Linked DNA regions of Homo sapiens. The protein of the gene in region 1 purifies or fractionates together with the protein of each later gene. This does not show direct contact. Each region holds a gene or a part of one and is shown in the gene's direction. Other genes may lie near its edges. The genes, in order: VNN2, KLK7, FAR2, PIGS, FKBP14, MIA3 and APOD.

What was found.
Region 2: the proteins of VNN2 (region 1) and KLK7 purify together in Homo sapiens (affinity purification with mass spectrometry; 2 studies listed by BioGRID and IntAct, with this or other methods). This does not show direct contact.
Region 3: the proteins of VNN2 (region 1) and FAR2 purify together in Homo sapiens (affinity purification with mass spectrometry; 2 studies listed by BioGRID and IntAct, with this or other methods). This does not show direct contact.
Region 4: the proteins of VNN2 (region 1) and PIGS purify together in Homo sapiens (affinity purification with mass spectrometry; 2 studies listed by BioGRID and IntAct, with this or other methods). This does not show direct contact.
Region 5: the proteins of VNN2 (region 1) and FKBP14 purify together in Homo sapiens (affinity purification with mass spectrometry; 2 studies listed by BioGRID and IntAct, with this or other methods). This does not show direct contact.
Region 6: the proteins of VNN2 (region 1) and MIA3 purify together in Homo sapiens (affinity purification with mass spectrometry; 2 studies listed by BioGRID and IntAct, with this or other methods). This does not show direct contact.
Region 7: the proteins of VNN2 (region 1) and APOD purify together in Homo sapiens (affinity purification with mass spectrometry; 2 studies listed by BioGRID and IntAct, with this or other methods). This does not show direct contact.

What each region holds. Positions count from the first base shown.
Region 1 is NC_000006.12:132,750,828-132,755,371, reverse strand, and holds part of VNN2 (pantetheine hydrolase VNN2 isoform 1 precursor), read left to right. Parts: intron 1-1,880; exon of another isoform or gene 1,881-1,954; intron 1,955-2,622; coding exon 2,623-2,911; intron 2,912-3,853; coding exon 3,854-4,227; intron 4,228-4,544. UniProt on the Homo sapiens protein: Amidohydrolase that hydrolyzes specifically one of the carboamide linkages in D-pantetheine thus recycling pantothenic acid (vitamin B5) and releasing cysteamine. Involved in the thymus homing of bone marrow cells.
Region 2 is NC_000019.10:50,977,758-50,981,276, reverse strand, and holds part of KLK7 (kallikrein-7 isoform 1 preproprotein), read left to right. Parts: intron 1-789; coding exon 790-1,037; intron 1,038-1,352; coding exon 1,353-1,489; intron 1,490-3,519. UniProt on the Homo sapiens protein: May catalyze the degradation of intercellular cohesive structures in the cornified layer of the skin in the continuous shedding of cells from the skin surface. Specific for amino acid residues with aromatic side chains in the P1 position.
Region 3 is NC_000012.12:29,330,488-29,335,031, forward strand, and holds part of FAR2 (fatty acyl-CoA reductase 2), read left to right. Parts: intron 1-2,112; coding exon 2,113-2,240; intron 2,241-2,357; coding exon of another isoform or gene 2,358-2,385; exon of another isoform or gene 2,386-3,144; coding exon 3,145-3,307; 3' UTR 3,308-4,544. UniProt on the Homo sapiens protein: Catalyzes the reduction of saturated but not unsaturated C16 or C18 fatty acyl-CoA to fatty alcohols (FAls). A lower activity can be observed with shorter fatty acyl-CoA substrates.
Region 4 is NC_000017.11:28,554,525-28,559,068, reverse strand, and holds part of PIGS (GPI-anchor transamidase component PIGS), read left to right. Parts: intron 1-478; coding exon 479-593; intron 594-2,096; coding exon 2,097-2,242; intron 2,243-2,802; coding exon 2,803-2,903; intron 2,904-4,007; coding exon 4,008-4,218; intron 4,219-4,544. UniProt on the Homo sapiens protein: Component of the glycosylphosphatidylinositol-anchor (GPI-anchor) transamidase (GPI-T) complex that catalyzes the formation of the linkage between a proprotein and a GPI-anchor and participates in GPI anchored protein biosynthesis.
Region 5 is NC_000007.14:30,019,783-30,024,326, reverse strand, and holds part of FKBP14 (peptidyl-prolyl cis-trans isomerase FKBP14 precursor), read left to right. Parts: intron 1-1,510; coding exon 1,511-1,662; intron 1,663-4,022; exon of another isoform or gene 4,023-4,114; intron 4,115-4,544. UniProt on the Homo sapiens protein: PPIase which accelerates the folding of proteins during protein synthesis. Has a preference for substrates containing 4-hydroxylproline modifications, including type III collagen. May also target type VI and type X collagens.
Region 6 is NC_000001.11:222,627,580-222,632,123, forward strand, and holds part of MIA3 (transport and Golgi organization protein 1 homolog isoform 1 precursor), read left to right. Parts: coding exon 1-2,810; intron 2,811-4,544.
Region 7 is NC_000003.12:195,577,441-195,581,984, reverse strand, and holds part of APOD (apolipoprotein D precursor), read left to right. Parts: intron 1-2,489; 5' UTR 2,490-2,523; coding exon 2,524-2,646; intron 2,647-4,544. UniProt on the Homo sapiens protein: APOD occurs in the macromolecular complex with lecithin-cholesterol acyltransferase. It is probably involved in the transport and binding of bilin. Appears to be able to transport a variety of ligands in a number of different contexts.

The sequences.
Region 1 (4,544 bases):
AAAGAAAAAAGAAAATGACACGTTGTAAAAAACTACTCAGAAAAACATGTAGGCAGAGAACTGTTAAAAAAAAAAAAAAGTAGCATGATGGTCCAGGATTGAGATAAACTTTTTGCACATATAAAACAAATAATTTTAACATAAAAAAAGATACTAAGGTGACTATAATCTGGGCACTGTTTCAATAATTTTATATTTTTTTAGAGACAGGGTCTCACTGTTGCCCAGGCTGGAGTGCAGTGGAGCCATCATGGCTCACTGTTAACCTCAAACTCCTGGGCTCTAGTGATCCTCCTGCCTCAGCCTCCCAAGTAGCTGAGACTGTAGGCATGTGCCACCATGCTAATTTTTAAATATTTTTTTGGAAACAGAGTCTCACTACATTGCCCAGGCTGTCTTTGAACTCTTCACCTCAAGCAGTCCTCCCACCTTGGCCTCCCAAAATGCTGAGATTAGAGGCATGAGCCACTGAGCACAGCCATAATCTAAATACTATTTAATATTGAAATGGTAGAAAGATGTTTCAAAATTGTATGAATCAGCTTTGCATAAGTTAATTTGCTATCAAACCACAAAATACCTTATTTTCTACACCAGCTAATTTAATTACCATCTTATAGATTTAAGATCAAACCATAAAATGTTTACTTTAAATTCTGAATTGAAAAAAGGAATCAAATAACCTTTAAGTCATAATTTTATACTAAACTAGGTAGAGAAAGAAGCCTGGCCTTTTAAATGGATATGTGTGATGTACAGGCAGTATGAATGTCCCTTCTCCACACCCAGATATTTTGTAAGCATCTTAAACTGTAGCCTCAGAATCTTTGGAGTGGAGAAATTATCTCCTGGCAGTCTCAGTTAAAATATAAATATTAATTAAGAGGAGGGATGTTAAACCAATGGTTTTCAAATGATTTCGATCATGGACCCCTATTGGAAAAAATCGTTAACATAAGTCCTCAATATATGTATTTTTGTGTGTGTATTTATAAAGTGCAACAATTTCAAAATGCTTTCTTCATAATTTTGTGGATTTTGACAGCTTCTTTTCATATATATCACTGCATTTCACTTTCTTCTTAAAATGTGTCTCATAGTAAAAATAGAAAGGTCAGTGCTTCCATTTTCTTGCTTGGGAGATTGTTTGCATTATTTGTATTATCTTTCAATGCAGTTTATTTGCAGTAATCATTTGAAGCTATTCTGCCATTCTGTAAATATGCAGGATGGCACAGTGCACTGAATGTGGACAAACTAGCAAGGAACCTGCAGTCACCCTGTCTAAGTTGAAAGGCTCTCACTCTTCCCTGAGGGTACCTCAGGGACCGTTTGTAACCCATGACCTCTGACATATGTGAACCTAATGAGAATACCTTTGTCGATCAATTCCTTTTTTTTTTTTTTTTTTTTTTTTTTTAGGCAGAGTCTGGCTCTGTCATCCCGGCTGGAGTGCAATGGCACGATCTCAGCTCACTGCAACCTCTGACTCCCAGGTTCAACCCATTCTCCTGCCTCAGCCTCCTGAGTAGCTGGGATTACAGGTGCATACCACCACACCCGGCTAATTTTTGGATTTTTTAGTAGAGATGGGGTTTCTCCATGTTGGCCAGGCTGGTCTTGAGCTCCTGGCCTCAAGTTATCTGCCTGCCTTGGCCTCCCAAAGTGCTTGGATTACAGGCATGAGCCACCTTGCCTGGCCTGTCAATTCTTAAAATAGTAGTAAAGCCCAATTTCTTTTCTATTTTTTAGATATTTTTTCTACACTGCAGACCATTTTATTAACTGTTGATTCCATTTATTATATTAGACTAAGTTTTTTTTTAGTTTACCTAGAAGGAATCGGGAAATTAAATACATTTCTATGGTAATTTTGAAAGGTGGGCAAGAGTCACTGAGATTACTTTGGATGGGACACTAAAGAGAGAGATGACATCTCTCACCTGACTTACAGGTATTTATTATGCATCTATTAATATTACGTTTCTAGGCACCAAGGATTCAAAGAAGAATAATGCATGTTTTTTAACTTTTAAGAAGCTTATAGGGCCAGGTGCTGTGGTTCATTCCTGTAATCCCAGCACTTTGGGAGGCCCAGGTGGGTGGATCATGAGGTCAGGAGATTGAGATCATCCTGGCTGACACGGTGAAACCCCGACTCTACTAAAAATACGAAAAAATTAGCCGGGCATAGTGGCACGTGCCTGTAATCCCAGCTACTCGCTTGAACTCAGGAGGTGGAGATTGCAGTGAGCCGAAATCATGCCACTGCACTCCAGCCTGGGTGATAGAGCGAGGCTCCGTCTCAGAAAAATAAAATTAAATTAAATTTAAAAAAAGCTTACGGACTTTGGGGTTTATGGGGGGGTATTTGGCTCTTAACTGAGAGAGAGGGAAAGAGAGAGAAGGGAGAGAGAGGAGATGAGAGATGCTATGGACGTATGTTACATATTCCTCCACATTTTCCTTAGAAATTTACTTCCAATTGCCAGATTTATCCGCTTCCTAGGAGATTCCCTGCAGTTGACCATAGCCAAATCTGTTACCAACTTAGAGGGTTTTTATGAGTCATTTCTTCAACAAATAAGGTTTTACTGGTTTTCTCCTATCCATTTGTTGTAGTACCACCTGTACTCTGAGCCTCAGTTTAATGTCCCTGAAAAGCCGGAGTTGGTGACTTTCAACACCGCATTTGGAAGGTTTGGCATTTTCACGTGCTTTGATATATTCTTCTATGATCCTGGTGTTACCCTGGTGAAAGATTTCCATGTGGACACCATACTGTTTCCCACAGCTTGGATGAACGTTTTGCCCCTTTTGACAGCTATTGAATTCCATTCAGCTTGGGCAATGGGAATGGGAGTTAATCTTCTTGTGGCCAACACACATCATGTCAGCCTAAATATGACAGGTAATTCATGACCAGGTTAGGTTTCATCTTATATTTTTAAGTGCAGAGAAATGAATGCCTCAGTTATGACTTGTATTAATTTTTTGCTTATTGGAAATTCTTACTGTGTTTGTCATAGTTTCACAATAGAAAAAAAAAGCTAGCACTTGATTATAAGCTATGGTTATACTAAGACCTTTATGTGTATTATTCATTTAATTATTACAATAATTATATGAGATAGATAGTGTCATCCCAATTTTGCAGATGAGAAAATTGACATACAGAGAGTGCAAGTAATTTGCCAAATGCTACCCAGCTACTACTTTCCTCAGTGGCCATGGAAGCCTCTATATCTTGCCCTTTGTCTCCTCCTATGGCTGCATGGCATATCCTCGTGACATGGCTGCTGTCTTCCTCTAGAGCAATTAATGAGAGGGGACAAGAGAGAAAAGGAAAGAAGCCACATTGCTATTTATGACTAGTTACCCACCATCACTTCTGCCATGTTCTATTCATTGGAAGTGAGTCACTAAGTCCAGCCCCTCTTCAAGGGGAAAGGAATTAGATCCTCCCACCAGAAAGAAGAATTTTAAGGAATTTTTGGATATATTTGAAAACCACCACAATGAGGAATAGGGGAGAATTTTTATTCCCTTTCCCCACCTTTCAGGAACTCCTGACTACAAAGATTTTTGTAGTTGGTTTAATTTTCCATAATGCTAATAAATAATGCTATTATATTTAAGGTTTAATTGAAATGAGACCAAGGAATGTTTATTTTAATCTCTTCCATTAGAGAATAGAAGTAGTTAGGTGTTCAGTGCAATTAGAAGCATGTATCCTCTCTCATCGTGACTAATATGGTGGCGTGATCACATGCCCAATTCTGATGGGGAAATTGGCAGTTTTGGTTTTTTTGTGTGTGGTGTTGTTTTTAGAAGACTTGTCTTTCATTCACAGGAAGTGGTATTTATGCACCAAATGGTCCCAAAGTGTATCATTATGACATGAAGACAGAGTTGGGAAAACTTCTCCTTTCAGAGGTGGATTCACATCCCCTATCCTCGCTTGCCTACCCAACAGCTGTTAATTGGAATGCCTACGCCACCACCATCAAACCATTTCCAGTACAGAAAAACACTTTCAGGGGATTTATTTCCAGGGATGGGTTCAACTTCACAGAACTTTTTGAAAATGCAGGAAACCTTACAGTCTGTCAAAAGGAGCTTTGCTGTCATTTAAGCTACAGAATGTTACAAAAAGAAGAGAATGAAGTATACGTTCTAGGAGCTTTTACAGGATTACATGGCCGAAGGAGAAGAGAGTACTGGCAGGTAATTTCAGTTCAAATGAAAGGGCATTCAAGTGAAAGGTAAATTCCAGGTTAACTTTTTATATTTGTTCCAGAAAACCAGGTGCTTTTCCTTGGCTTGACTCCATGCATTGATGGCAACACACACACACACAACACACACACACACACGTGCATTTATGCACGTACATACACTGGGATAAAATATTTACAATGGGAATTAAGTATAATCTTATTGCTTGCTTTAAGCATATTTAAAAAATTATTAACCTAACCATGATGAGTTTCGATTTGACTAATAAACCAGCCTACTGTGGAGAACATCAAGAAGACTTCCTT
Region 2 (3,519 bases), on another chromosome or scaffold:
CTCTTTCTGGGTCTCTGTCCCTCTCTCTCTGGGTCTCTGTCCCCCTCTCTCTCTGGTCTCTGTTCCCCCTCCTCTCTCTCTGGTCTCTGTCCCTCTCTCTCTGGGTCTCTGTCACCCTCTCTCTCTGGGTCTCTGTCACCCTCTCTCTCTGGTCTCTGTTCCCCCTCCTCTCTCTGTGGGTCTCTGTCCCTCTCTCTCTGGGTCTCTGTTCCCCTCTCTCTCTGGTCTCTGTTCCCCCTCCTCTCTCTCTGGATCTCTGTCCCCCTCTCCCTGGGGCTCTGTCCCCCTCTCTCCCTGGCTCTCTGTCTTCCTCTCTCTGGGGCTCTGTCCCCCTCTCTCTCTGGTCTCTGTTCCCCTCTCTCTGGGTCTCTGTCCCTCTCTCTCTGGGTCTCTGTCCCTCTCTCTCTGGATCTCTGTCCCCCTCTCTCTCTGGGTCTCTGTTCCCCTCTCTCTGGGTCTCTGTCCCCTCTCCTCTCTCTGTGTCTCTCTCCCCCCTCCTCTCTCTGTGTCTCTGTCCCCCCTCCTATCTCTGTGTCTCTCTCCCCCCTCCTCTCTCTGGGTCTCTGTCCCCCCCTCTCTGGGTCTCTGTCTCCCTCTCTCTGGGGCTCTGTCCCCCTCTCTCTCTGGATCTCTGTTCCCCTCTCTCTGGGTCTCTGTCTCCCCTCCTCTCTCTGTGTCTCTGTCCCCCCTCCTCTCTCTGGGTCTCTGTCCCCACCCCGTCCCCCAGGTCTTTGCACACCCTCTCTGTCACAGTGTCTCTTCTGAATCTGTGAATGTCACTCCTCGCAGTGAGTACACCGTGCACCTGGGCAGTGATACGCTGGGCGACAGGAGAGCTCAGAGGATCAAGGCCTCGAAGTCATTCCGCCACCCCGGCTACTCCACACAGACCCATGTTAATGACCTCATGCTCGTGAAGCTCAATAGCCAGGCCAGGCTGTCATCCATGGTGAAGAAAGTCAGGCTGCCCTCCCGCTGCGAACCCCCTGGAACCACCTGTACTGTCTCCGGCTGGGGCACTACCACGAGCCCAGATGGTAGGTGGCCTCAGTGACCCAGGAGTGCAGGCCCCAGCCCTCCTCCCTCAGACCCAGGAGTCCAGGCCCCCAGCCCCTCCTCCCTCAGACCCAGGAGTCCAGGCCTCAGCCCCTCCTCCCTCAGACCCAGGAGTCCAGGCCCCCAGCCCCTCCTCCCTCAGACCCGGGAGTCCAGACCCCAGCCCCTCCTCCCTCAGACCCAGCAGTCCTGGGCCCCAGACCCTCCTCCCTCGGAACCAGGAGCCTGAACAACAGCCCTTCTGGTCCTCGCCCCCATCCTCTCTGACTGACAGCTCTCCCTGCTCCTCCCTGCAGTGACCTTTCCCTCTGACCTCATGTGCGTGGATGTCAAGCTCATCTCCCCCCAGGACTGCACGAAGGTTTACAAGGACTTACTGGAAAATTCCATGCTGTGCGCTGGCATCCCCGACTCCAAGAAAAACGCCTGCAATGTGAGACCCTCCCCCCCAATTCCTCCCCAGTCCTGGGTACCCTGTCTGCATGCCCCAGGGACAGAGCTTGACCCGAGTGACTGGGTACCAAGCCCGGCCTTGCCCTCCCCCCAGGCCTGGCCTCCTCAGCTTTTTCCACCTCATTCTCTGCCTAGGTCAGGGGTGGGAGTTTACTTAGGGGCCAATGTGGCCCTGGGGATGAGACAGAGAGTTTAATAGGGGTGAGAAAGTGGGGGTGGGACCAGGGAAGGAGACTGAGGTGCTGGCCTCAGGCCCAAACCTTAAGGGGGCACCAAAAACCTCAGTGATTGAGATAAATCATAATGCAATATTTAAAAATAAAAATAAAAACTCATGCAGAAGTCCATGATGGACAAAATGTCACATTTTAAATAAAGAGCAGGTGGATCTTACTGAATTTTCCCTTGCCGTAAGTACTAGCGTGGCTCAGCACAGCGCTGTACTGGCACTGTCTTCATTTAAAATGTGGATACCATGCCCATCATGCAGTTTTATGTATTACATTTGATTTCGTTAAGTACTGCATTGAAGTATTGTGTATTGCAGTTACTGAGATTTTGTGCCTGAAGCTGATGACTCACTCACCTGACCCTGGCCCTGGTCCCGGGGAAAACACTCTTTCTCTCCACCTCCTCTCTGTTCCCTCTTTCTGGCCTTTTGTCATCCCCTCTGTTTCTGAACAGTCTTCCCACATCTCTCTTTGTGACATAATTTCATTTCATTCTTTTCCTCTTTGTTTTTTCTCTGTGTTGAGCTAGCTTGCTCTCCCTCCCTTGTTCTCTCTCCATGCCCTCCTCTCTGCTCTCTGTCTTCTCCCTCTTTCTCTTGCTTCTCTCTCTCTCCTCCCCTCCCTCTCTCCTCTCCCTGCCCCCCTGCTCTCTCTTTTTTCCTCTCTCTCTGTCTCCTCTCTGGCCCTCTCCTCTTTCTCTCTCTCCCCCACTTCTCTGTCTCTCTTCATCTCTCTCCCTCATCTCTCCTTGCCCCCTCCTTTTTACTGTCTCTCTCTTTCTCTTTCTTCTATCTCTCTCCTCTCCCTGCCGCTCCCCCATCTCTGTCTTTCTTTCTCTCTCTTTATTCTCCTCCTCTCTTCCAGTCTCTCTCTCCTCTCCCCACCCCCACCCCATCTCTCTCCCCACACCTTCCCCCCCTTTCTCTTTGTCTCTCTCTTCTCCCTCTTTCTTCTCCACCCCCATCTCTCTCTCTCTTCTCTTCCCACACCCTCCCCATCTCCCTCATCTCTTTGTCTGTCTCTCTTCTCCCTCCTTCTTTTCCACCCCCATCTCTCTGTCTCTCTCTCTCCCCATACCCTTTCCCTCTTCCTCATCTCTCTTTGTCTCTCTCTCCTTTCCCTCTTTCTTCTCCACCTCCAACTCTCTCTGTCTCTCCACACCCATCCTCCTTGCTCACATCTGCACCTTCAGCTGTCAGGGGATGTGGGATGGTGAGTGTTAGGGATAGAGGAGATGGGAGAGAGATGACTGTCCTAGAGAATAGGGTGTTCCCCTTCTCCCCTGGTGAGGGCCAGTTTCATGAATGTGCAAGCTCTGCACGGACACAGAGCCCCACACTCAGAAGGGTCTCAAACTTAGTCTAATGCATTCCTGCTGTTGTCTTGAAATTCTCAATAATTTTTGAACAAAGGGCCCTGCATTTTCGTTTTGCACCAAGTCCTGTAAATTATGTAACTGGTCTTCACCCTGGTCTCCGAGACCATCGTGTCCCCCTTTCCTGCGCCACAGGGCACGCATCCACCCCTTGGAGATGATGTTCCTTCTCCCACTAGCTTGGAGCAGGGTCCTTAACATTGGAAAATAAAGAGTGCTCTGATCCTGGAAGCCCCACCCCTTCTCTGCAATTGGTCTCATTGGCCAAGGGTCAAACCAGTGTCTTCAAAGGACCTAGTGTGTCCCTAGCACTAGCTCTCCCATTAGTCCCCAGAGACAATGAGTCTCTTCTCATTGGCTATGGTGGAAGTCCATAATCTGCAAGACAAAGACCGATAACTGAGG
Region 3 (4,544 bases), on another chromosome or scaffold:
TAAATAGGGATAATAATATTTAGTTACTTTCCTCCGAGTTCTAAGATGGTTTTCTGTGATTAAAATATAACATTTAATTTGCATATAAAGGAGAAAGAATCGAGTAGCCTTAGAGAACTACTAAATCTTTAAGATGTCAAATTCAATTACATTCTTTAGAAGTGTAATATTTCCTGAAGAGAAAAAGAGCTAAATATAGACTCTGGAGGAAAGATGCAATTTATGAATTAAACCCAAGAGATTCTCAGAAAATCGTGTAGCCATTTTAAAGTTAACAAACTTGACCTTTAGTGGTGATTGGCTTTTTGGTTTTGATAATATATGCCTTTTATTTGGTACCATCTAAGCCTCGATCAAAGACTGATTGTCTGAAAAAAGGAAACTAAGAGTTTACTTTGGTCATATTCATGTAAAGCTTATATACAGACTAAATAGAATAAATTGTTGTGTAACAAAAAAGAAACACTTTTGGTGTTCAAAATTAATATTTAAATTAATTTGACCTAAATTCTATAATTCATTAATAGCAAGTATTTATTGAATGTCTACTTTGTGCCATTCAAAGGAACATCATTCTTGTTGTTCTAGGAATATCATTTATTTGAATTAAGCCATTTTAGCTATTAAAGTCCTTCCTAGTGAGGCCTCACCAGAAGTTAAGTAAGTTAAGAGTAACGAGCAACTTTCTTTCACTGTACGTGAAACTCTCCACTAAAGATAGGCTTTTTTTTTTTTTTAATGTCCAGGGATGAATAGACAAAAAGTGATCTGAGAGTGCTGTATGTCCAAGGAGAGAGAAGAGTGCCCAATTGGAAGGACAAAAGCACCTTAAACACACCCTCCACTTGCTAAGATTTATAAATATTAGACTTTTTAAATGCTAGCACAAGTCCATTTTCCAGGCCATTCTCTCCAAATACATGAAATAAAACTCTATTGAACCAAATCCACTCACTGATGCAATCTTTTATTTGATAACAGGGTCATACCAAACTCTCCAAGAATACCTAATACTTGAAATATTTCCAGAGATGATACCAGAATCTTCTTGACACTCTTTCTACTAACAAGTTTTAGTGCCCTAAGTTCTTTATATTCAATCAAAACTATTTTTTCTAATATATTTGAAGATCATTTCCCTCCCTTTCTTTCTCCAATTAGGCCCTTTATATGGAGATTTTGAAAAGATCCCTGGATGGCTCAAGAATGACCTATCAGGTTTCTCTTCCTAACTCATCCTATCTCCATTTGTAATCCATATAAATCTGGGCCACCTCCTGATCCTGTGTCAGCTCAGCATCATTTTCAAAGTACACAAAAAATAAAATCTATGGAATGCAATTCAAATCTTTACTCCAGCTTTTCCATAACAAACCAAAAAAAGAATACATTTTTGGTTATGCAAGTGTTTTTCTTTTCTCTTCCTCAAAGATACCTTAAAAATTTTTTAATCATTTTTCTTTATTGTCACTCTCTGTATCTGTCTTCTATGTGGCACAACTTCTCTCCCTAAACAGATCAATCTCTTCCTTCTCCTTCTTCCCTACTCCTCCCCCATGTTGTGATCACTCCTTTTTTCTTTCACTACCAATCACTCTCTTCTTAAATATAAATTCTGGTAACTTATTCCTTAAGGCTTTGCTTCCCAAAGTTTAATCTGCATAATGAAATGGTAATGCTGTAGGAAAGGATGGTAGAACAAAGGGATAACACCAAAATTTAAGAGGAAAGGGAAAGTTGCATCATTTATGTTTTGGTCACTAACATATTATTCTATCACTTTTAAAAATAATTACTCCTCGGTTAGCTGAAATATATACCAAGCCAACCATAAGTTTTCACCAGACTATGTAATACTATTTCCTTTAAATCTCCCTCACAAGAAATGTGAAGTGTTTGTGTTTGATCCATGTTTAAATATTCCTATGTAAATAGTAATCCATATTATCAGTACCTTTGAAATAATGACTCAAATAATCTCTCCTTTGGAGAGGGTCCAACCTATGTCTCCCAAATTGAAGGTCACTCGTCTATGTAGAAGAAACCTCAAGTGGACAAAGTGACTGTCCAGCACTGCAATTCTGGCAATCTATAATCTCTCTTGCCTCTCAGGTATTCAACTTTGACGTGCGCCAGTTGAACTGGTTGGAATACATTGAAAATTATGTTTTGGGAGTTAAAAAATACTTATTGAAAGAGGATATGGCTGGGATCCCAAAAGCAAAGCAACGCTTAAAAAGGTAAGTATAATCAGTCAGTTAATATTTATTGAGCACCTACTGTGCATCGACTTTATACCAGACATAACATTTGTGCAGAGGAGAATGAACATTTCTTGAGCATTTACTACATTACAGGTCCTGCACTCCATACTCTACCCTGTAACACAGTTTCATTTAGACTTCACCACACCTCTATGAGGCAAGTATTACTTTTGTTACCCCATTTTTATGAGGCAGATATCTAGATTTAAACACAGCAAATAACTTGCCCATGGTAATTGCATAGTAAGTCTAAGAGCCAGATTTGAACCCAAATTTGTTTCTTCTACCACACTCTGTCATAATGGGATATAAATACCCAACAGGCAGGAGACCTGATTATGCTATTTAACCTAGAAAAAAGTCACTCCTCAATTTTTTCAACTTTCTTAAATTTCTTTCAGTCGTAATCCCTGAGGGACAAGGAATTCTAGCACTCTGGTATAATCCTGGTAGAAGCAGAGGATCTGTAGTGCAGAGATGATAAGGATAAAAAAGTAGCTTGCAAAACAGGAAGGAGGAACCTTGAATAGCAAGCCAAGAACTTTAGAATTTACCTTCTAATGAACAAGAACCAGTGAAGATTTATGATGTGGTAACATGACCAAAGTATATTTACAAGATTATGCTAGTCATGCTTGTAAATAGTTTCAAGTGGAGAGAGGTATAAGAGAAATTAGGGAAATATGGTAGAAATCTGACTATTCAGCAAGAATGCTGTGGAAATGAAAGACGCAGAAACCAATTGGCCAAGTTATATCAAATACTCTGAGCACTTCATAAATACTTGCCAGTCATATCCAGGAAAACACATATTTATCTTCAGATAATGTGGTTGGGTATCTGGTAGTTTTAACTTTGGTTATGTCTGTCTGTTCCCTAGGCTCCGAAATATTCACTACCTCTTTAATACTGCCCTCTTCCTTATCGCCTGGCGCCTTCTCATTGCAAGATCTCAGATGGCTCGGAATGTCTGGTTCTTCATTGTAAGCTTCTGTTATAAATTCCTCTCCTACTTTAGAGCATCCAGCACGCTCAAAGTTTAAGAGCATTTAGCCATCGCTTTTTATCTGGAACCTCTCAGATACCTCTAAAACAGCAAACTGTGATTCTCAAGATTAGAAAGTAACAAGGAATATGCCCAAACTGTCAAATGTCACCTGTTATGTATTCGTCCCTATTCCTTAACTATGTATTTTTATTTCAGTGAGAGAAGGAAAGTTGTAAACTAGCCCATAGTCACCTATATTTTAGGGAAAAAAATCCAAATTGTTTCCTAACATTCTATTTTATGCCCTTGCGTATTAAACGTGAAAGTACTCCCACTTTTCTATATTTAGTTTTTCTTTTCTCTCTGAGATGATTCATTTAAACTCAGTAAATATGGAAAGATGCATGGCAGAAGCTGAAATGAGCTCAAGCAGTACTAACCTTGGAACCATTCTGGGTACCCAAAAGAAAAATTTAAAATCAAGATGAGTAAAAGGAGAATGGTCTCAATATCCTCAAAAATGCAGTAAGAGAAGTAATTCCCCACTGAAAATGTCTCTCTTTCTTTCTATGTTATACCCTGGAGTCCTGGTTGAGGGGTGGGGGAATCAGAAAAGTAGGTTTACATTTAACATTTTTCTTAACTACATTCACTTCTTAAAAAGGAACAAGAAGTGTAAATAAGTATGTATAGAGTGAGGGATTAAGCATATTTGCATTGGGGACTCGTGTATTATGCTTTTAAGTCAAAATTAATATTCTCAAATTCGAATTTGATAGCTATTATTTCTAAATCTTTTTAATCCTCAATTTTCCTGGTAACCTTCTTTCAAGAGTCTCCTTCTTCTAAAAGTTGCCAAACCCTTTATATTTAAGCTTTTTCCACTCAGGACTCAATTAGAGTGGTCAACAGGGAGAGGGATGGTCCCATTTGATCTTTGCCACTGAGCAAAACAAAACTTCAAATGAACTTTTAAACTGTAGCTTTAGTCTTCTGGTATAAAGTGGGGAAGATTACACTTATGTGATCACCAAAGGATTTACTAGTATCTTGGTCATTCCAATTGCACAATGTTAACTGTACAACACACAGCAGAAAAGTGAATAGACTTCACTAAGGGATTCTAAGTTTAGAAAATAGGTTTTGTTTTCTTAAAAAATTTTGTGTATAATACAAACTAATGAAAACTATACATATTCTCCAATTCCTATAGTAATAATAATGTAACTGTTACACCAACTTTCCTCATATTTGAGAGATGAGTACATGTTGGATTGCAGCATTTCTTCATG
Region 4 (4,544 bases), on another chromosome or scaffold:
GGTGGAGTTTGCAGTGAGCCAAGATTGTGCCACTGCACTCCAGCCTGGCAACAGAGTGAGACTCCATCTCAAAAAAAAAAGATGTGAAGAATGTAGCTTTCTGTATCACGCTGTCTCCTTGTAGGGAAAACACGTGGGAGAAATTTTTATCAGGTCTTCCTAGTGGGAGTAATTGCTTCTGAATAACTGGCTTGATTTGATCTTGTAGACACTGAATTATGCTGTTCTTTGTTTCTCTCTTTGTGTAGACTGTTAGGAAACCTGGTAAAATACGTGATTTTTAAAGCACGTATTTAGTTTATTCAGTTTACCCTTGGCTTTGCTATTTTCTTCTGCAATTATTTTCTCTCAGCCCTGATTTTGTCTCTTATATGTTGCCTTGTCCTGATTGTGTCTTTTTTAAGGCACCTCAAATCTTTTTTGGGAGAAAGTAGAATATAAATCTAAACAAAGTAACCACTCCCTGTTTGCTCTACAGATTCTTTACTATGCAATGTTGGGGGTGAATCCCCGCTTTGACTCAGCTTCCTCCAGCTACTATTTGGACATGCACAGCCTCCCCCATGTCATCAACCCAGTGGAGTCCCGGCTGGGTGAGCACCTAAGGATGAGGGTCTTTCTTTTCTGCCAGGCTAGGGAGGGACCCTGACGGCTCAGCTGGGTAGGGGACAGGAGTTGGAGGTGGATTATATACAGTGATGGTTCCCAGGTTGGGTTGGTCCGAGGAGACTGTGGAGATTGAGGCTCCTTTTTTTCTTTTTTTGAGACAAGGCCTTGCTCTGTTGCCCAGTCTAAAGTGCAGTGGCACAGTCATAGCTCACTGCAGCCTCCAACTCCTGGACTCAAGTGGTCTTCCCACCTCAGCCTCTCGAGTAGCTAGAACTATAGGTATGTGCCACTACACTTGGCTAATTTTCAAAATTTTTTTTAGAGACAGGATCTCATTATGTTGCCCATGCTGGTCTTGAACTCCCCTCAAGTGATCTTCCCACCCCAGCCCCCTAAAATGCTGGGATTATAGGCGTGAGCCACTATGCCTGAGCCCTAGGTTCCTTTTTCATGATGCTCTGTTGATATCTCCATCTTCACACCTATCATATCCAAAAGCATTTATTAAACGTGATTCCTAGCACTTTTTACAAATGAATGACTAGGCTGGGTCTATCTCCCTAAAAGCCATCTAGGAGAGAGGCTGTCACACACATAGGAAAGACAACAGCAAAAGTACTTGAGGGCAGAATTTGAATTGACAGTTCTGCTGATTGAGGTTGAATAACCTTGAAGCTAGTATTAGAGTTTTTCATTTTTCGGGTGGAAACTAGGAAGAGGAGGTGTGACTAAGAACTGTAACACAGGCAAACCAAAGTGAGTATATCTAATTGTGGAATCTCAGATACCAGAGGCAGGCTAGTGTGGCCCAAGGATTGTGAGGGGGTGGCATGTGAGGCCTTAGAAAATTCCTCCGTTCATTTATTCATTCAGCAAACATTGACTGAGGGACTACCTTATGACAGTGCTGAGTAGAGAAAAGAAGGGCATTTCAGGCAAAGGGAACTGTGAGCTTAGATGCAGACAAGTGAGAGAGCTTAGGCATTCAGGAAGCTCAGAGTAGTTTAGTGTGGCTGAAATGTGAGTGAGTGACCAAAGATGAAGCCGGTTAGGCAGGCAGGAGCCAGGTCATAAAGGACCATGTTAAGGAGTTTGAACTTTAACCTGATATGGGTGGCTAGTGATTGAGGGATATTAAGCAGGGAACTGACATAAGGTCAGATTTCTGGTTTGCATAAAACTATCTGTAGTAATATGGGTACATTGTGGGAGTGGCCAAGAAAGCTGTCGTAGACAGTCAAGGGGCCTTTGAGGAGGGAGAATTCGGGGGTGTTTTGGAGCTAAGGACTATGTTTCCATCGGTATGGCACATCTCGGGAGAACATTCTGAAGCCCTTTACTAGAGACACCCTGGACAGGAGGATATCCTAATGATTGTTAGTTGGGGAATCAGTCCCAGAGTGAGTGACCAGCAAGTTAGAGGCCGACCTGGGACTAAGGTCCAGGTCCAGCATGTTTTGATATTCTGCTTTCCCTTTATACCACAGGATCCAGTGCTGCCTCCTTGTACCCTGTGCTCAACTTTCTACTCTACGTGCCTGAGCTTGCACACTCACCGCTGTACATTCAGGACAAGGATGGCGCTCCAGTGGCCACCAATGCCTTCCATAGTCCCCGCTGGGGTGGCATTATGGTAATAGTCACACTACGCAGACCCCAGAGCCCATGCTTCTGGGACAGGCAGGTGTCCCTGAAACTGTGTTCCTTCTGTTTTCCTTCTGGTGTCCTCCATGGCCCAGCCTGTGGGAGGGGCAGGCACCAGGAAGGTGAGGGTGCTATGTGCTCATGCCCCTCTTCTGCCGGCCCCACTTTTGTTTCCGCCAGTGTTTTCTATACTGTGACCCTTTGCCCTTACCTAGGATCATTCTGTGTCCATCTTAGATCTTCGCCTTATTTGTGGGAGTCTTGCAAGGTTGGGAGCCTTGTCTCCCTTGTTAGACTGGAAGTTTCTCATGGGGGAGAATTCTAAAATGGGATAAGAAAAAAATATGTTCTACAGGACTTTCAAGGGGGTAATTGGGATAATGTATTTAATGCTCTCCGTAGTAGGTACTCAAAAAATATTAGCTATACCATGAGGTTTATAGCTTCTAAAGAGCACAGAATATGTTTTCCTTTTCTCTCCAGAGTGCCTAGGGCAGAGCTGTGCAAGGGCCTGGTATGATGTTGTGGCAATCTCATTCCCCCTTTCAGGTATATAATGTTGACTCCAAAACCTATAATGCCTCAGTGCTGCCAGTGAGAGTCGAGGTGGACATGGTGCGAGTGATGGAGGTGTTCCTGGCACAGTTGCGGTGAGGTCCTGGATGATCCACTTGGGGACATAGTCTCCTTGGCTGTAGAGGGGAGTTGCAAAGTGGAATCAAGTCTTACCTGGCAGGGATATCTTGGCTGTGCCTAGAGCCCCAGGGAAACCAAGAAAAGTTTCTAAGGATCCCATCATCCTTCTAAGAAGGACTAGTAGGTGACAAAATCATTTATTTTTTTTTTTGAGACGGAGTCTTGCTCTGTTGCCCAGGCCGGAGTGCAGTGGTGCCATTTTGGCTCACTGCAACCTCCACCTCCCGGGTTCAAGCAATTCTCTGCCTCAGCCTCCCGAGTAGCTGGGACTACAGGTGCCCGCCACCACAACTGGCTAATTTTTTGTAATTTTAGTAGAAACGGGGTTTCACCATCTTGGCCAGGCTGGTCTTGAACTCCTGACCTCGTGATCCACCCGCTTAGGCCTCCCAAAGTGCTGGGATTACAGGCGTGAGCCACTGTGCCCAGCCAGCAAAACCAGTTTTAAGAAAAATAGACTCATGAATGTCAGGTCCATGGAGTGTGATTAGGGCTGCTTAAGAAAATAGCTGTTAATTCTTATGCTGCCTGATGGATTGAGAGTGGCTGCCTGAGGCTCTGTGTTGAGGATTCTAAGGCTGTATCTGGGCTCATTAGGAAAGAGTATTCTTCTGATTGACTAGCAGTGTCTCTCACGGATGCAGGCTTAGAGAAGCACAGCACATGTGCCTTGGCAAAGGCAGTCCTGGATCATCCCTTAATGCTAAGTCCCATTGGCCCCATTTGTTCAAAGAGAGGGTAGAAAAGGTGAAAGGATTAAACTGAGTTGGTGTTATCAGAAGTATTTTAGCCATGGAACCTTTTTTTAAAAAACAAGATCTTGGAAATCTAATGTAGAAACAGGTAAAAGCAGAAACACCTGTTGAAGCAGCGTTTGGGGCCAACTTGTTTGGTGTTGCCCCTTATGCCCCCAAGACCCTGAGGTACTTCCCTTTAACCCCTATGGTTCTGGGTAAGATTGAAAATCACTGGCTCAGGACAGATATTTGAGAAATCTTAGCCATGATCTCCCGCCTTGTGGTCTCAGCCACCTTGATCTTACTCCGATGTTCCTACAGGTTGCTCTTTGGGATTGCTCAGCCCCAGCTGCCTCCAAAATGCCTGCTTTCAGGGCCTACGAGTGAAGGGCTAATGACCTGGGAGCTAGACCGGCTGCTCTGGGCTCGGTCAGTGGAGAACCTGGCCACAGCCACCACCACCCTTACCTCCCTGGCGCAGCTTCTGGGCAAGATCAGCAACATTGTCATTAAGGACGACGTGGCATCTGAGGTAAGCAGGCAGGGGATGGATTCTGCAGCTTGGGACTGGAGTAGCCAGAGAGGGCCAGAGTGTGGTGAGACCAGAGAGCCTGTGAGGTCCATGGTATGTGTGGGCTTGCCATCTTTAGTGTCCCAGCCTTCCTCTAGACGGCAGTACCAGCCCCCAAGCAGGAGTGCAGATGAGAGTGCGAGGTTTCAAGCTGACCCTAGGAAAATAAACCATATCCCTGTAGAAAGACTTCCATAGATCCTGGATGAACTCCAGGCATCTTCCTTGGTAGATGGAAGGCACAGTAAGGCCCAGCACCCTTTCCACCAATGCCTAGGACTTACTGG
Region 5 (4,544 bases), on another chromosome or scaffold:
AAGAACTGTGCTAAAATTGTAGTCAGTGATGAGTAGTAGAATGTTTCCTGCTTCTTTTTTCATTTCTAGCCTTCCCAAATTTTCTACAGTTGGCATTTTGTTACTTTGATCATTGGGCAAAATTACAGGAAAAAATGGCATTACCCAGATTTAGTAACCATGGTACTCATGAAGCGTAGTACAGTGACTTCTTTTTCTCACCTACAAGATATCCTTGAATAGAATATTTTCCTTATTGCACTGAAAGGGAGCTAGGTAGGGATCAGGCATTACTCAGCCCTTAAGCCTCCCTGTATGTAGTTCGGCAGGTTGGTTTTCCTAGGCTAGACTCTCTTCAACTCATGAGCCAGGACATTCTATTTCCCTCGTCCCCAGTTGATAGGGTTCCGCTATGGCCCCACCCAATTCTCATCTTAAATTGTAGCTACCATAATCCCCACATGTTGTGGAAGGGACCTGGTGGGAGGTAATCGAATCATGAGGGCAGGTTTTTCCCATGCTGTTCTCCTTGTGATAGTAAATAAGTCTCACGAGATCTGATGGTTTTATAAAAGGCAGCTCCTCTGCACACTCATTCTTGCCTGCTACCATGTAAGACGTGCCTTTGCTCCTCCTTTGCCTTCCGCCATGATTGTGAGACCTCCCCAGCCATGTGGAACCGCGAGTCCATTAAACCTCCTTTTCTTTATAAGTTACCCAGTCTTGAATATTTCTTCATAGCAGTATGAAAATGGACTAACACACCAGTCCTTGAGGGGCTACTCTTCCAGACTTTCCTATATAGCCCCACTGTAGACCCCTGAGGAGGAAACTGGGCTAGGGTCTGAGTGGGGATTTAGGGATGAAAAGCAGCCTTTTCTACCCGTCAGAGCCATCAGCAGGCCATAGCTAAGGCAAGTTTGTAGGCAGGATATAAGACACTGTGCTTCTCACTCTTCATATCTGTGTGCATATGGACCCACATATGTTGGCAGTAAATTCTCCTTAGCCTTTCAATCTCCTTCCCAAACTCAGCCATTTTTCCATTATTTTCTCCTTGTTCTGCAACCTAGTGGCCTTCCTGGGACAACATAACTTTGTGATTAAGACCTTGAACTTTGGAGTTAGGTTTAAAGACTGGAACTTAACCTGTGTTTCCTCATCTGTGCAATGGGGTAGTAATGGTACTTATATTATAGACTTATTGTAAGGGTTAAGAGGCAAAAAATAAAATAAAATTTAGAATAATTCCTGGTATACAACAAATGTTCAAATGGTTGTTGTTTTTATTATTTCCTCTGTCTTTCTTAAGCCCAGTCAAGTATGTGAAATTTGCATCAAGAAAGATGGGCAGTGAATTGAATTCCTATAAACTTGACTTGGAGGTGTGTGTGTATGTGTGCAAATACAGAATTGCTGTATTTATAAATTTTTAAACTAATAAACTTAACCACTTACTGGTGGGAAAATGCACTAAAGAAAATTTTTTAGAGTTAATAAGGAGTTCTAATGTGTTTTATTTCTATCATAGTCACAAACATAACAATGGTCAGCCCATTTGGTTTACCCTGGGCATCCTGGAGGCTCTCAAAGGTTGGGACCAGGGCTTGAAAGGAATGTGTGTAGGAGAGAAGAGAAAGCTCATCATTCCTCCTGCTCTGGGCTATGGAAAAGAAGGAAAAGGTAATAGTATTTCTGTATTTTTCTTACTATAGCACTAGAGTTGTTCTCTGGATTAGGAGACAGAAGTTAGAGTCACTATAACTTTTTTTTTTCCCCTGGAAGTTAATAGGGGGTATGTATTCCTTTAGCAACTGTATTATGTCTTGAGTATCAATTGAAATGGCCAGTTTAAGGCCGTAATGTCTAAATGGGCAACTATGCTAACAATAAAAAAAGAACATTGAGGTCTATTAATACTGTTCACAAATATGGTGGGTTGTTTTAATTGTGATAAAATATACATAAAATTTTTCATTTGAACCATTTTTAAGTACACAGTTCAGTGGCATTAAATACATTCATGTTATTGTGGAACCATCACCACTATCCATCTTCAGAATGTTCTCATCTTCCCAAACTGAAACTCACCAATTTACTTTAACAATGCAGAGAGAAAGATCCATTAACGTAAGTGTTTGGATGAGTTGAACATGTGAAATATAGATTATTAAAGTATTGAATGCATTTTAGATGTGGGTTATATATGGGTTGTACTTCATGAATATTAAGTCTCCCACAGCAAACTGGGAGTTCTTTTCATTCCCGTTTTTAAATTTATTTATAAAGTTTTTAACAATGTATTTAAAAAAAATCATAGAGTGACATGAAATGAATTTAATTCTCCCTGTGTCACAAAGCAGAAGCAAGCTGGCTAGCTGGTCCGGACAGCTTTTGTACTAGTTTTTCAGGGCAGACACATATCCTGCTGTTCAAGTGAGAACCCCTGCAACTTTCCAAAGAGCTGCTTTGTGATATATATCAAGAGGTCTGGGCCAGGCATGGTGGCTCACACCTGTAATCCCAGCACTTTGGGAGGCCAAGGAGGGTGGATCACTTGAGGTCAGGAGTTTGAGACCGACGTGGCCAACATGGTGAAACCCTGTCTCTACTAAAAATACAAAATTAGCTGAACGTAGTGGAGTGCACCTATAATCCCAGTTACTTAGGAGGCTGAGGCAGGAGAATTGCTTGAACATGTGAGGCAGAGGTTGCAATGAGCCAAGAACGTGCCACTATACTCCAGCCTGGGGGACAGAGCCAAACTCCATCTCAAAAAAAAAAAAAGAGGTCTGAAGATGTCTATATGCATTTATTCTATAATTCCTTCAAACCTAAGGGAATAATTAGATATCAGGAAAAAAATTTGTGAACAGGGATGTCCATAATTGCATTGTTTCTAAGCAAAAAATTGGAACTGTCGTAAGTGGTATACTGGTAAGAATTTAGCTAAATAAAATATGGCCCAGTTATTTAAAATGGCATTTCCAAAGAGTTTAAAAATTATATCTGAAATGCATGAGATACAGTATTATATATAAAAGTAGAAAATAAACCTATAGTATATATGATAGTAAATATAGGAAAAGGTACATATACATAGAAAGTTAATCATAAGGAAATAAATAAGAATGTTAAAAATGGACTGTGATACTGGGAATCATATTTATTTCTGGTTTTATCATCCAAGTATGTGCTCTACAATGAGCATGTATTACTTACATAATGAAGAAAAAAAAGTTTAAGTAGTCATCAGAACCAGACAGACAACTACTCTGATATAGTATAAATATAGACTTCATAGCATCCTGAAGTCTAAGGTTAACCACTGACAAAAGTGAGGAGTCAGGATTCACAGCCCATTTCCTGAGAAGGAAAATAGATGCCATATGGCAAGCATTATATATTCCAAAATATACAAATCTATACAAATCTTGTTCATAGGATAAGATTAACTAACCAAATTCAATTCTTCTTTTAGTCATAATCCTCTTTAGAGAAGAAAACCAAGTATCTAGAAAATTTTTTCTGATGCTGAGAATGTTTTCATTTTATCTTTATTGTCTCACCTTTAATATTTACATACAGTAGTTCCCCTTTACCTGTGGTTTCACTTTCTACCGTTTTAGTTACCTGTGGTCAACTGCAGTCTGAAAATATTAAGGTATTTTGAGAATGAGAGACAGATTGCATTCATATAACTTTTATTATGATATGTTGTTGTAATTGTTCTATTTTATTATTTTTAATCTGTTACTATGACTATTTTATAAATTAAACTTTATCACAGATATGCATGTATAGGAAAAAGCATTGTATGTATGGGGTTTGGTACTATCCATGGTTTCAGGCATCTAATGGGATTCTTGGGACATATCCCAGTGGGGACTACTGTACGTTGTATTAGTCCATTACTCTTTCTCATACTATATTTAACTCAAGTTTACTTCACAATAAGTAGAGATCTAAATTTGAGTCATTTCCTTCAAACTGAATGCCATGAAACTAATTTTTCTAATCTGTATTTAACACTAATTTTGTAGTCTTTTAGTACATGCTTGCATGCCTCTTTTGGAAAGATACCAGTTTTATCAACAACCTAGCGCATGTCACATCTCTGTCTAGATCTGAAATGGTAAGCTTCAGCACACTTTATAAGTCTTCTCTTTGGAATTTATGAATGTTCTTTCATGGAAATATGTGGGATGGGGGGAGGATGACTAAGAAATATTTAACATGTTTACACAGACCTGTATGTTAAATATAGTTATAAGGAAACAAGTTTGAGAAAAACAATTGTCCATACTCCACAGATGGGTGTGTTTGTTTGTTTGTTTGTTTGTTTCAGGTTCCTGGGATTTTAACAAAGCTCTTTTCACTTTTAAAGATTTTTAATTTCCCTTCTCAGAAATTCATTTTAATTTCTCCCCTCCCATGAAATGTCTTCAACATATATATAATGTTCTATATCAGAGGTAGTGTTTCCTAACTTTCTGAAATTGTTAAACCTTCCTGCATTATTTTTAAAGCCTGTGAGAAAATTATACCTCAATAACATGTATTGA
Region 6 (4,544 bases), on another chromosome or scaffold:
GGATTTTGTTTGTTTTGATGGAGGAAGAGATGATTTTCATAATTATAATGTAGAAGAACTTTTAGGGTTTTTGGAACTGTACAATTCTGCAGCTACAGATTCTGAGAAAGCTGTAGAAAAAACTTTACAGGATATGGAAAAAAACCCTGAATTATCTAAGGAAAGGGAACCTGAACCTGAACCAGTAGAAGCCAACTCAGAGGAAAGTGATAGTGTATTCTCAGAAAACACTGAGGATCTTCAGGAACAGTTTACAACTCAGAAGCACCACTCCCATGCAAACAGCCAAGCAAATCATGCTCAGGGAGAGCAGGCTTCATTTGAATCTTTTGAAGAAATGCTGCAAGATAAACTAAAAGTGCCAGAAAGTGAAAACAACAAAACCAGCAATAGTTCTCAGGTCTCAAATGAACAGGATAAGATTGATGCCTATAAACTTTTGAAAAAAGAAATGACTCTAGACTTGAAAACCAAATTTGGCTCAACAGCTGATGCACTTGTATCTGATGATGAGACAACCAGACTCGTTACTTCATTAGAAGATGATTTTGATGAGGAATTGGATACTGAGTATTATGCAGTTGGAAAGGAAGATGAGGAGAACCAAGAAGACTTTGATGAGTTGCCATTACTTACCTTTACAGATGGGGAAGATATGAAAACTCCAGCAAAGTCTGGCGTTGAGAAATATCCAACAGATAAAGAGCAGAATTCAAATGAAGAGGACAAGGTTCAGCTAACTGTGCCCCCTGGCATCAAAAATGATGATAAAAATATACTAACAACCTGGGGGGACACTATCTTCTCTATTGTCACAGGAGGTGAAGAAACAAGAGATACGATGGATTTAGAGAGCTCTAGTTCAGAGGAAGAAAAAGAAGATGATGATGATGCATTAGTCCCAGATAGCAAACAGGGGAAACCACAGTCAGCAACAGATTATAGTGACCCTGACAATGTAGATGATGGTCTTTTTATTGTAGACATTCCTAAAACAAATAATGACAAAGAAGTAAACGCAGAACATCACATTAAAGGAAAAGGGAGGGGAGTTCAGGAATCCAAGAGGGGCCTGGTACAAGATAAGACAGAATTAGAGGATGAAAATCAAGAAGGCATGACTGTGCACAGTTCTGTTCACAGCAATAACCTCAACTCTATGCCAGCTGCTGAAAAGGGTAAAGACACATTAAAATCAGCTTATGATGATACAGAAAATGACCTAAAAGGAGCAGCTATTCATATCTCAAAAGGAATGCTCCACGAAGAAAAGCCTGGAGAGCAGATTTTGGAAGGTGGCTCAGAGAGTGAATCTGCACAGAAAGCTGCAGGGAATCAAATGAATGACAGAAAGATTCAACAGGAATCCCTGGGTAGTGCACCACTCATGGGAGATGACCACCCTAACGCATCCAGAGACAGTGTGGAGGGAGACGCTTTGGTAAATGGGGCCAAACTGCACACGCTTTCAGTGGAGCATCAACGTGAGGAATTGAAAGAGGAATTAGTTCTTAAAACTCAAAACCAACCTAGATTCTCCTCTCCAGATGAGATTGATTTGCCCAGAGAACTGGAAGACGAGGTTCCCATTCTGGGAAGAAATCTTCCCTGGCAACAAGAAAGAGATGTGGCTGCCACAGCCAGTAAGCAAATGAGTGAGAAGATAAGGCTCTCTGAGGGAGAAGCCAAAGAGGACTCCTTGGATGAAGAGTTTTTTCATCACAAGGCAATGCAGGGCACAGAGGTAGGACAGACAGACCAAACTGACAGCACAGGAGGACCAGCTTTCCTTTCTAAAGTAGAAGAGGATGATTATCCCTCTGAAGAACTACTAGAGGATGAAAACGCTATAAATGCAAAACGGTCTAAAGAAAAAAACCCTGGGAATCAGGGCAGGCAGTTTGATGTTAATCTGCAAGTCCCTGACAGAGCAGTTTTAGGGACCATTCATCCAGATCCAGAAATTGAAGAAAGCAAGCAAGAAACTAGTATGATTTTGGATAGCGAAAAAACAAGTGAGACTGCTGCCAAAGGGGTCAACACAGGAGGCAGGGAACCAAATACAATGGTGGAAAAAGAACGCCCTCTGGCAGATAAGAAAGCACAGAGACCATTTGAACGAAGTGACTTTTCTGACAGCATAAAAATTCAGACTCCAGAATTAGGTGAAGTGTTTCAGAATAAAGATTCTGATTATCTGAAGAACGACAACCCTGAGGAACATCTGAAGACCTCAGGGCTTGCAGGGGAGCCTGAGGGAGAACTCTCAAAAGAGGACCATGAGAACACAGAGAAGTACATGGGCACAGAAAGCCAGGGGTCTGCTGCTGCAGAACCTGAAGATGACTCGTTCCACTGGACTCCACATACAAGTGTAGAGCCAGGGCATAGTGACAAGAGGGAGGACTTACTTATCATAAGCAGCTTCTTTAAAGAACAACAGTCTTTGCAGCGGTTCCAGAAGTACTTTAATGTCCATGAGCTGGAAGCCTTGCTACAAGAAATGTCATCAAAACTGAAGTCAGCGCAGCAGGAGAGCCTGCCCTATAATATGGAAAAAGTCCTAGATAAGGTCTTCCGTGCTTCTGAGTCACAAATTCTGAGCATAGCAGAAAAAATGCTTGATACTCGTGTGGCTGAAAATAGAGATCTGGGAATGAACGAAAATAACATATTTGAAGAGGCTGCAGTGCTTGATGACATTCAAGACCTCATCTATTTTGTCAGGTACAAGCACTCCACAGCAGAGGAGACAGCCACACTGGTGATGGCACCACCTCTAGAGGAAGGCTTGGGTGGAGCAATGGAAGGTGAGATGCCTATGGCCTTGTAGAACAGGGCTGGAGAAGCAGGTGGGTGGGTCGCTGAGGTGCCTCCTATCTTGTGAAGCTCTGTTCAGTTTCCAATGTGCCTAAAGGAGAGGGACAACACAGGGAGGTCCACATGTTCCTTCCTGCCATCTTTCTTTTAGGCTGGAGCATGGAGAAGAATTTCTTGCCGTTTCCCTTAGAATAGTTGAGACTGGTTAGCATTTTCAAAAGGAAACTTTGTAAAAAGCTAAAGAGAAAGATATAAACCAGAAAGTAATATACAAAATACAAATGTCATGTAAAATTATGAAAGGGTTTTATTGAACACAATTTTTCAGTCGTCAGATAACTGCTCTGTAACCATGGATTGACTGGTATAACTTTTAGATCAATGCCTTGGCTAAATTCCTACGTTCTCCCCAATTTTATCTTTTGTGGATGGCTTGTTCTTCCTGTTTCTTGGGAGCACTTACTCCAGTTAAACCCTCCTGGGCCGTAAGGTTCTTGCATGCAGATTAATCAAGATTGGGACAGGGATGCCTTCGAATGCAGTGCTTGATGCGTGGAAGCCATTCAGTTGAATTAACCCCGAGCCAATATCCTGACATAAGCATTCTGATTCCTAGTTCCTTGTTCTATTCTCTGCATCCAGGCTTTTCTCTTTCTTTTCTTTTCTTTTCTTTCCCTTTGCCCACCTGCCCTTCCTTCCTTCCTTCCTCTTTCTTTTTTTCTTTTCTTTTTTTTTTTCTTAAGACAGGCTCTCACCCTGTCACCCAGGCTGGAGTACAGTGGCATGATCATAACTCATTGCAGCCTCCAACTCCTAGGCCCAAGCGAACCTCCCATCTCAGCCTCCTAAGTGGCTAGGACTACAGGCATGCATCACTGTGCCCAAATAATTTTTATTTATTGTAGAGACAGGGTCTTGGTATGTTGCCCAGGTTGATCTTGAACTCTTGGCCTCAAGTGACCCTCCTACTTTGGCCTCCCAAAGTACTGGGATTACAGGTGTGAGCTACCGCACCTGGTATATCCAGGCTTTTCAGACAGATGTATCTGAATTGAGAGTACCAAGGGGACAGGAAGCCACAGGAAAACGTATTACTCCAGAGTGCTAATTTTTCCTAAGAAATGGGGGAGGAGAACTTTTTTGCATTTAATTAAAACATATATTTTGGATAAGAAGGCAATATTCAGATGAATTTTCAGGGTAAAATATGAGGCTACAAGGAAATTCACCTTTGCTGTGGATCACATTGGACTGTCCCCTAAGCCTCTTAGGAGAGGAGATGGCTTCACTTTGTTTGACTCTTAGAGGTACTTTGAAAGTATTCGAAAGACATCTCAGCAAGCTGCCTTGGCGTGGAATGTCCCTGTCTGTACTAGTTCTGTGAGAAAGGCATGCTAGGGTATGCAAGAGTTCATGTTACTTCTCTGCAGAATAGATGTTTCACATTTCTGCTCTTGAGTGGAATTCTCATTTGCACATTTATTTGTGTGGGTGTAGGCTGATTTGCCAAGGAAAGATGTTACTGAAGTCCCTACCATAAATGTATTTATTTATGAAATACTCCTCTGTAGATTTTATTATGTAGATTAGTCATCCTTTAAATGGAATAAAAGAAACTGAAACTCTTATTTCCCTGCCCAGTTGTGCTCCATGGGATGCCCATGCATGGAGGTCAATGTTGAGGTGCCCTGGTGTGGTCAGTGGGATTAGCCTAACAGGTAGTG
Region 7 (4,544 bases), on another chromosome or scaffold:
GTTGGTCAGGCTGGTCTTGAACTCCCAACCTCAGGTGCTCCACCTGCCTCGGCCTCCCATGGGATTACAGGCTTGAGCCACCGCACCTGGCATCACAAGGAGTTTTAACCACAGGAATAAAACTAATGTAACCAAGAGGCATCTTTGGAAGAGGGTCAGTCAAAGGGGTTGTTCTGAAATCCTCCTACTGAGGTAAAGAATCTGTTTCAGCTCACAAGAGAGCATTTTGTCAGAGTAAGATGTAGAACTGACTTTTGTTGCAGTGTCATGTGGTGGTGAGACTCATCAGGTCACAGAGGTGGGGGGTTATTGAAAGGCCCTATGGCGGTGCACAGAAGAAGCAGATTCGGGGTGCTGCAGACAGGAGAGGGGGAGATGGAGCTCGAGTCCCAGCTCTCTGCCCCTTCCAGGCCCCAGCTTCCCCATCTGTACACCTTGGAAGTAGAGCTAGAAAGATGACCTCTAAGGTCCTATCCAGTGTGGGGACCTTGTGGAATGTGCATAGTGTGTGGCCAGTCTTTGAGGTTTGATCCTCTGGGCCAGGCTTTCAGCTTGGGCCTACTAAGTAGAATTCAAGATCTCTTTAAAATGGATGCAAATTTGTGTGGGTTTAGGCTGCATTTCTATAAATTCATCATCCCCCAAAAGGTTAAAAGACAGGTTTTGTTTATACAGTGGTGGAGCCGATGAGAAACGGAACCTCAGAGACCAGGGAAAGTGGCCCTGTGGCAGACTTGCTCAAAGGGGCCTCAGCAACCATCTCCCCCTGCAGCAACCCCAGCTGGCAAGCTGCCACTCCTTACATAACTGTTCTTTGGAAAACCAGGCAACAAAACCTCCAGGGGAAAAAAAGCTATTGATTATTAAAGGGTATTTAGAGGTTTAGAGACTCACAATAAAGCAGTTATAATTATTCCTGTAATGACACATCCTTCGAAATGCTCAGATCTGAGAACATTTTGCTTGCATTGCATCAGTCATCATCATTACAGGGAGAAATGCAGAGAGCTGGAAATAGCTCGTGTGCAAGCTACAGGCAAGGAGTCACAAGGAAAGGAGCAAATTGACAGCGAGTCAGTGAAGGAAACAGGGGAGCTTCCAATGCCCAGAACCTGCACACAGTCCTGCAGCCTCTGTCTCCCTGCCTTGCTGCCCCGCTTCAAAGCCAGCTTCTGCTGCCAAAGGACTCTTGGGGTTGAAATGCTTGTTGCACAGTTACACATCAGCTGACAGTCCTTCTCTGATTTAATGAACTTCATCTATGAAAAATACCCTCAACAGGCCGGGTGCGGTGGCTCAGGCCTGTAATCCCAGCACTTTGGGAGGCCAAGGCGGGTGGATCCCCTGAGGTCAGGAGTTTGAGACCAGCATGGCCAACATGGTGAAACCCTGTCTCTACTAAAAATACCAAAATTAGCCGGGAGTTGTGGTGGACACCTGTAATCCCAGCTACTCAGGAGTCTGAGGCAGGAGAATCACTTGAACCCGGGAGACAGAGGTTGCAGTGAGCCGAGATTGTGCCACTGCACTCCAGCCTGGGTGACAGAGTGAGACTCCATCTCAAAACAAAACAAAACAAAACAAAAACCCTCAACAGAATGTCAAAAAAAAAAAAAGAAGAAAGAAAGAAGAAAAGAAAAGAAAGAAGAAACCTGGGAAATACCATCATCTTTCTGCTTTTGATAATAACAATAACTAGCATTTATTGAGCATTTACTCTGTATCAGACACTCCTCTAAGTACTCTCTGTATATTATCTCATTTAATTCTCACAAAAATTCATGAGCTAGGAATGATAATTATTCCCATTTACTAGACAAAGAAGCTAAGGCATAAATTGGACACAGTTATACTTAGTATGGGGCAGAGTCACAATTTGAACCTGGCTGGGGTGACCCTGGAGCCCCCAGCAGGCCGCTCCCTGTTAAGGTTTCCAAGCGCACTCTTGGGCTGGTAGAACAGCCAGCAAGACGAGGGCAGGGGGAGGGATGGTGTCAGAGAGGCATCTCCCTGAAGAATCTCAGAGGACACTAAGTGTTGGGCAACATTTGGTTTGGTTTCGTGTCTTTCGTGGTTCACTTGGAGGCTTTAATCCCCCACTTTACATAGCCCTCTCCACGCTGTTTCTGTTCATTTGACAAGTATCTACTGAGCCGACACTTTGAGGTCCGTGGGTGATTCTGAGGAGAACTAGACACAGTGCCCATCCTGGGAGATGCATAATTAGGTGGGACAGGGGTGAAAATCAATCCAACAAACCAGAATACCAGGCAGAGAGCGCCCTCGTGGAGGTGCAGAGGCTCTGAGGAAGGCCTCACAGCAACAAGGACAGGCAGGTGTTCCCCTGCAGGATGAGGGTTCACATGGGCTGGGGAGAGAAGAGGAGGGACCGCCCACAGAGGGGACCATGGGCACAGCACTCTTACTTCATGATTGTGTGGCCTTAGAAGGCTCAGAATGACAACCCCAGCTGCTTTGCGTTCCCGCAGCTCCAGGTCCCTTCTCCAGCCACCCAGCCCCAAGATGGTGATGCTGCTGCTGCTGCTTTCCGCACTGGCTGGCCTCTTCGGTGCGGCAGAGGGACAAGCATTTCATCTTGGGAAGTGCCCCAATCCTCCGGTGCAGGAGAATTTTGACGTGAATAAGGTAAAAGGCGAACCTCCCGTTTGTTTTGCTGCCTCCGCTGTGAATAAGCGTTCTACAAGGTTCAATGTAATTATGCTGCTTTAATTTCCACTGCACACCTTGGGACAAGTATTTATCTTATTTGGGGTTTCCCCAAAGCAGACATCTGCTGAGATAAAGACTGCAGGCAGAGAGGTTTGGGATGATCCCGGGACGCACGAGAGCAGGTGGGAAGGTGAGTCGGAGACAGCACAGAAGCAATAAAGGGTGCGTTCCTGAGCTGTCGCCCTGGGCCGTCAGGGTCAGTCACACTGGGCACCCTCTGAGGACACGTGGAGCATGCCCCTCCGATTGTCCCACAGCTGCTGCCAGCAGGTCATGGGAGCATCCGTGGCTCTAGCTGAGCCCCCTGGCAGAGGAGAGACACAGGGTCTCAGGTGGGAGGCTGGCAGTGTCTGGGAATTGCCTACCGTGGCTGCGGTGAACTCAGAGGTGGGCTGAGGGGAACAGGACCAGGGAACCATAGTAGCTGCTACAGAGCTATTATCCTTGTTCTACAGATGCAGCATCGGAATCTCCCTCCCCAGCTCACGCAGCTGGTAAATGCAAGTAGGATTCAAAACCAGGCTTCTCAGCAGTGCAGGGCACCCAAAGGTCACTCAAACAGGGCTCAGGAAAGCCCAAAATTCTCCAGGGGGCTTTCTTGGTATCTGCACCAAAATGTCATCAATACAACGAGCTCCTCCATAGATGGTCTTTCTTCCTGGGGTTTAGCGGGAGGGGAAGGAAGAGGGCGGCAGAAAGAGGCAGCTATTGGAGGACAGGACTCACAGGCTCCCACTGTTGCTACTCAAGCCTGGAATCTCACCCTTAAGACTTCCTCTCCTTAGGAGAAGGTTTGGATCTCTTTTAAGAATGGCAACAGTAACATCGAAGTTGTTATCATACACTCGCACCTCAAGGTGAATGAGTGTTGGGACCTCTGAGGGGACGCTGGGTGGGAGAAGGAGCACCATCCATGGGATCAGGAGATACAGGTGTGGTAGGAAGAGGCCATAGAGTACACTAACGTCTACACTGACTTGCTCCACTTACAGGCTGATCCCTTTATTCAGGTAACTCTGATAGACCACAGAGAGGCTTTAAAGAAAACATCCAAGGAATCTGAGTTATACTTTCGCTTTTGGATACAAATCCCAAAGCACTTTGGAAATGATAACTGATCTGTATTTATAGAAGTCCTTTGAGAATTAAAGCAGGATTTAAAAAATAGCAGCTTTATTGAGATATAATTTGTATAGCACGTAATTCACTTGTTTAAAGTAGCTTTTCACTTTCCATTGTTGTTAGTATCATCACAGAGTTACGCAACCATCACCACCACCATCGATTTAGAACATTTCACTGTTCCGAAAAGGAACCTCATACCCATTCACGGAGTCTCCATCTCCCCTCCAACCCTTCCAGCCCCAGGCAACCACTAATCTACTTTCTGTCTCCGAATTTGCCTATTCTGCATATTTGATAAAAATGAAATCATACTATATGTGGTCTTTTGTGACTGGTTTACTGAACGTTTTCAAGGTTCATCCACGTTGTAGCATGTATCAATACTATATCCCCTTTTATTGCCAAATAATATTCTTGTAGGAAATCGTTATAGGAAATCAATTGACTGTATATGTGAGAGTTTATTTTTGCACTCTCAGTTCTATTGATCTATATGTCTATACTTATGCCAGTACCACACAGTGTTGATTACTATAGCTTTGTAGTAATCAAAGCCTTGAGGTAAGCTTTGAAATAAGAACACATGTGTCCTCCAACTTTGTTCTTCTGGTTATTCCGTGTCCCTTACATTTTTATATGAATTTTAGGATCAGCGTGTCAATTTCTGCAAATAATCCAATTGGAATTTG